Linked DNA regions of Homo sapiens: region 2 is linked to region 1. The links come from fine-mapping of genetic effects on gene expression. Tissue or cell type: sun-exposed skin. Region 1 holds a variant in brackets; the other region holds the start of a gene. All regions are shown on one strand. Distances are from middle to middle. Region 1 has its middle 27 kb from the start of LINC01948. Region 2 holds the start of LINC01948 (long intergenic non-protein coding RNA 1948).

Region 1 (2,909 bases):
CAAGAGTTGAATGGGAGTGGGGACACAGAGACATTGTTAGGACTATAGCAAGACAGATCTAATGCATGAGTCTTACAGTGAAAAGAAAAGAAAGCCCAGTGAGCAGTGCCAAATGCCACAGAATCAAGTGCCTCCCTGCTGAAGATGGGACAAGTGAGGACAACCAGGGCACTGTTTTGGTGGAGGAGCTGGAAGGACCCTGGGTTGGTGAAAGAACATGACCTTAGCAGAGGCCCATCACGTTAGGAAGGGGCACCAAGCTGCAGAACAGCAGGATGGGCACAGCTGGCACAAAGCCCATCCCAAGGCACAGAGAGAGAAGGAGGGACTTGGGGCGTTGCAGTCCAGTGAGTTCCCACTAGGGAACTCAGCACTTAAGACTCCTAGAGTATGGTCTCTCAGGCTGATGGACAGGAAGCCTGGAGATGGGGCTAAGTATGTGGAACAGGGACAGAAACCTCAAGGGTTCCCGAGAAACTGGGACAGGCCGGACAAGGCAAGATGCTCCCCACTTGTAGGTCCAACAAGAAGCACGTTCTTCCAAAGATTTAGGGTGTTGTGAAGGTGGCAGAGGGCAAGCAGAATACTCCATTTTAAAGAACACTCAGCCATATATTAGCAGAAGTGCAAATCAATCTTTTGGAAACAGCATCCCACCTTCCTCGGACATTGATATTTAAGGCAGGGACTGCTATGACATTAGCCAGACTATCCACACACCAAACCAGGCTGTCCCCGAGGCTCTGATTCACAGCTATTTACCAACACCCTGAATGTGTTATCTGAAACAGCAATCAGGAGAGAAGGCTACACGAAAATCTAGACAGGTCGCACCTTCTTCAACGTTTTGAATTGCAAAGTAAGAGGTGACACCAGCCCAGGGAGGTGTTGTGACCGTGGAAGGAGAAAGAATGAGCAATAATCTCTGGCACACCTCTGGGCAAAACGCTAAGCAGCACAAAAAGTGCGAGAGCATAGGACACATGGAGAAGAGAAGGTATGGAGCAGAAATGGCATTTCACTGGGAACTGGGATAAATAGGATCTTTCTTCACTCTAACTAGCTTGGTACATTTGGGAAAGTGATTTAATGTCCCTGAGACCTGGCTTCTTCCCTTGTAGAACATGAGAGTTGATGCAGGTGTTCCTTGGGATCCTCCTCATCCTAGTATTCTGTGAACGTGGGGGTCTGGGTAGTTCACAGACTGGGACACCCTCTCCCAGATTTTCCAGAGTAAATATTACTCCCCTGATGCAGCCTCAGCCAATAGCATGATCCTTCCCATCTCAGGAAATGTGTCCAATCAGAAAACATAGAGGGTGGATCCATCGGTGAGAGATCTTGCCGAGCGGTGTCAAGACTTCCCCGTGGCCCTATGTTTACCATGCATTCGATTCTCGGTGTGGTCCGGGCCTTTCTCACCTCATCCATTTCACCTACCAAGAAAGGAAATGACATTCATCCGGGCTGGGGCACTATTGCGCAACAAAACAAGCCAACCTGTAATTAAGGAGAACTGAACGCTGA[T/C]GCTGAGCCCAGCATCTTGGGGAAAGACTGCTGAGAGTTTCGCTTGGCTTTGGAATTCATTTATCAGATAACATGCGCTGGATTGACCTAAACTGCAACATGGCCCTTGTAATTATACCGTGCTTTTGCTTTGGAGCCTGAGGGAAATGTGGAAGGCGCTGGAGTCTGAGCTCTGGGTCACCTGAACGTCCTGTGATTATGCCCGGTCTCACATTCAAAAGGAGAGATGGGAGTGTTTGTATTTTACCCACAGCAGCAGACTCAGCTCTAGGATATGTGGGGTGCATGTGTCTTCTGTCTCTCCTGGAACTCAGTATCTGTTCATTCATTCATTGAGTACCTACTGTGATCAAGGCACTGGATGGGGCACTATGACAATTTCTCTTTTGGTATTTTTTCAAGATTTGTTTACTTGATCTTCTAGCCCAGGGGTCAGCAAACCACAGGCCATGGGCTAGATCCAGGCCTTTGCCTGTTTCTGTGCAGCCTCAATAGTTAAGAATTTTTACATTTTTAAATGATTAAGAAGGAAATCAAAAGAAGAACACTATTCTGTTACACAAGAACATTGTATTCAATTTGAATTTTGGTGTCAATAAATAAAGCTCTATTAGAACCCAGCTGTGGTGGGCAGAATTCTAAAATGTCCCCCAGGGATGCTCATCCTTGTTTAATCGCCTCCCTTTGAGTGTGAGTGAAACCTCTGAATGTACTGAAGTATCACTCCTGTGATTTATGTTACATTTTATTGCAAAGGGAATTCTTGCAGATGTCATTAAGATTACTAATCAGTTGACTTGGGGGCTCTTCAAAAGGGAAATTACCCAGGCGCGCCTAACCTAATCATACTAGCCATTTACAACAGGGTTCTCTCTTGCTGGTAGCAGAATAGAAGTTAAAGAAACATGCTACAGCTGACCAGGAAGAGAGCAAACATCTGTACTATGAACTGCCCAGAGGAGCCCTGAGTGTGGCCCTGATGACAAGCAGCAGGGAAACCAGGACTTCAGTCCTACAACCCCAAGGAGATGGATTCTTCCAACAACCTGAATGAGCTTGGAAGCCCCCAGATAAGAGCCCAGCCAGCCAATACTTTCATGTCAGCAGCGTAAAACCTAAGTGAACAGCTCAGCTAAGTCCACCCAGACTTCTGACCTACAGAACTAGAAATAATAAGTGGGTGTTGTTTTAATTGACTGAGTGTGGGGTAATCTGTTCTGCAGCAGTGTACTGACAATACAGCACAAATGCACATGCATGTGCACATGATCTGTGGCTGCTTTCACGCTACACCAGAGAGTTGGGTCGTTGCAGTGGAGACCTTATGGCCCATGAGCCTAAAATATTTATTACTGAGTCTTTGAGAGAAAAGGTTTGACAAA
Region 2 (2,909 bases), 27 kb before region 1:
GCTGAATTAATTTACATTCCCACCAGCAATGCCAGCAATGTATATGTGTTCCCTTTTCTCCACAGCCTTGCCAGCATCTGTTGTTTTTTTGACTTTTTAATAATAGTCATTCTGAGTGGTGTGAGATCTCATCGTGGTTTTGATTTGCATTTCTCTGATAATCAGCAATGCTGAGCATCTTTTCACATTTGTTGGCTGCTTGCATGTCTTCTTTTGAGAAGTGTCTGTTCATGTCTTTTGCCCACTTTTTAACAGGGTTGTTTGTGTTTGTGTTTTGCTTGCATAGCTGCTTTCCATGTTCTTTTCTATGTTATCTAGAACTATAATAAAAGTAACTGCCCAGCTCTTTGGGAGGCTGGGGCAGGCGAATCACTTGAGGTCAGGAGTTCAAGGGTAGCCTGGCCAATATGGTGAAACCCTGTCTCTATTAAAAATACAAAAATTAGCCGAGTGTGGTGGCACACACCTGGATTCCCAGCTACTCAGGAGGCTGAGGCAGGAGAATTACTTGAACCCCCAAGGCGGAGGTTGCAGTGAGCCCAGATCGCACCACTGTACTCCAGCCTGGGAGACAGAGTGAGACAGCGTCTCAAAAAAACAAAAAAAAAGGAACTAGGTCTAAGACAGGGTACCCAATCTATTTCTAAGAAGATGCTACTTCTCATTTTCTGGAAACACTGTAGCAAAGAGGAAGGGACAATAATGTCCCATAGTGGGTGGGCAGATATAAAAACCCCAAGATGTTCATTTCAGGCCCAAAGTGACTACTGCTTGCTACCCTCACCTTTCTCTGCTGGAACACTACCAGCCCCTGTGAGATGTGGGTGATCTCATGGGTGTTTGGAAGAATCCCAGTACCAGGCTAGGGGATCATCAAAGCTGACTGGATCAGTCCTGCTAGATCAGGAAGCCTTACTGAGTAAGGCTAATGCCAGGTCTCCAAACTGCCACTGAGCATCAGGGGTCCTTCCCACAATATCTTTGTTTCTCTAGGTCAAGAAATGATGCCGTCCCTAGAAACAGCGCAATGTTTATGTAAGAGTCAACTCAGAGACCTTGTGCCGGTACAAGAGGTACTATCTCATCCTGCTCCCCTGCAGGCACTAAATGAGACAAAATTCCTTCTGGAGTTCAAGTCCAGAAGGCTGACTATGCTGTTAATGGCAGTATACTGAGTTAAGAGAATTCGGGGAGACGGGAATATTGGGTCCACGATTCTGCCTGGAGGGAAGAATTGTGGTCTCCTCAGTCCTGTGGAGTAGGGGTCCGGGCTGATGATAGCGCCTCCTGGTGCAGAGTATACAAACAGCTGAAGATCTGCCTGGACCCCCTACCCCTCTCTTTTTTCCTTGTGGAAACTGTGTATAATTTGGAAAGAGCAAGGACATCCTGGCTCGCAGCTGGCCAGCTCCACCTGCGACCTGGACAGCCTCGCCCCTCCCTGCGGAGCCAGGCGAGTTCACAGGGCTGCCTCCGCTTCTTGCAGCATGTCTGCTCTCCTGGCCTGGCCTCTCCAGACCTTTCCCTCCACGGGCAGCGATTTCCAAGGCTCTCAAGACTCCAAACCACGTCGTTTTGGGAGTGAAAAAGTGAAAGCACACATCGTGTCATTAGAGCAGCAGGGACCAGCTGCTGGGTCAACACTTCCGAAAACAGCGCTTCCTGGGGAGCGACCGGAGCATCTCAGAATCTACGGTTTGACCTCCTGCCAATTCTCATGGTGTCTTTATACATTTTAACACAAAAATAAGATGTTTTCACTTGAGAGCGAGAGGGAAATGAACTGTTAAGGTGCTCTGTCGCCAGAGAAGTGAAGTTGGGGGGTAAATTTTAGGAACCCCCGACCCCCCTACCGAGGGAGGATGCGAAGTCGGCTCCTGAAACGCGAGCGAAACCCCCGCGCGCTTCCCGGGGTGACGCACATGTCTGTGTTTCTTTTTGCTTTTGACCAAAAGTCGTAGGGAGGGTCCTCCTCAGGGGACAGTCGCGGGCGCTGTGCCAGTCCTTCCTGTCCCCCCACCAAAGTCAACCCCAGCCCCAGGCCAAGGCCGCCCCGGCCGGAAGAGCCAGCTGGTGGGGGCCGTGGGGGGCGCGGCGGGCGCGCGGGGCTGGGGGCGGCGGGTCCGCCTACCCCGCCTTCCTGGCGTGGAGAGTTTCGGCCCCAGCCTCGCTGGCGTGGACTCTGCCTGAACCACGCCTGGGATGCTTTTGCCAAAGGAAACTTGGGGGGTGGGGGCGGGGCGGGCGACGATTCCCCCCCTCCCCACCCCGCCCCTGTCCTCCTCGGCCGGGAGCCGCGCTGGGCCGGGGTCAGCTGGCTGCCTTTGTGGCCGCTTCCCAGGAAGGAAGAAGCGTTGTCTGCAGATCAGTTGATCCGCGGGCTTTCCTGTGTCGGAATGCCGCCGTTTTCCGGGGACGGCTGCCACCCCCGTGATTCCCAGCCGGGGCTGCCGGCCGTGCGTAAGAGCCGGATAAATAGGCCATTGTGAGGCCGTTCAGATCTAGGTTTCTTATCACAGTATCCACCAGCGAGAAGCAGATTCGGCCCCTGATGGAGCTCATCCCAGCTTCTCTTTTCTTTCTCTGCACAGTTACAGCCATTTCTATTTTTTGCAGTTGTAAAGGGAATATTCAGAAAGCAATTTATTGTGTGCGACAGGGACTTAAGGGAGCGTGTCTGCAGACCGTGTTCCCACCGGGGTTGGGGTTCGCAACCTTGAGTTTAGCTCGATGGGCTTTGGTGTGTGAGGTTTCTACCCGCCCATCGCCCAAGGCAGGCACGTCCTTAAACACCAGCTGCAAGTATCAGGAGGGCAAGTCCGTAGGTCTCTAGATCCAGTGGGTTGGCTTTTTGGTGTTTGTTTTGTTTTGTGATAGCCTTGATCTGCTTTGTGGACACTGAAAATTTG

What was found.
Region 2: it holds the start of LINC01948, and the variant in region 1 is fine-mapped to the expression of LINC01948 in sun-exposed skin (GTEx, PIP above 0.99).

What each region holds. Positions count from the first base shown.
Region 1 is chr5:56,453,023-56,455,931 of GRCh38, reverse strand. No RefSeq gene overlaps it. Among named protein-coding and RNA genes, the nearest start is that of LINC01948, 27 kb to the left of the region's middle. The variant T/C (reference allele first, on the strand shown) is at 1,528.
Region 2 is chr5:56,480,339-56,483,247 of GRCh38, reverse strand. LINC01948 (long intergenic non-protein coding RNA 1948) reads left to right here and starts at 1,479. Exons shown (of 5, transcript NR_104664.1): 1 at 1,479-1,695. RefSeq lists an enhancer at 1,551-1,710.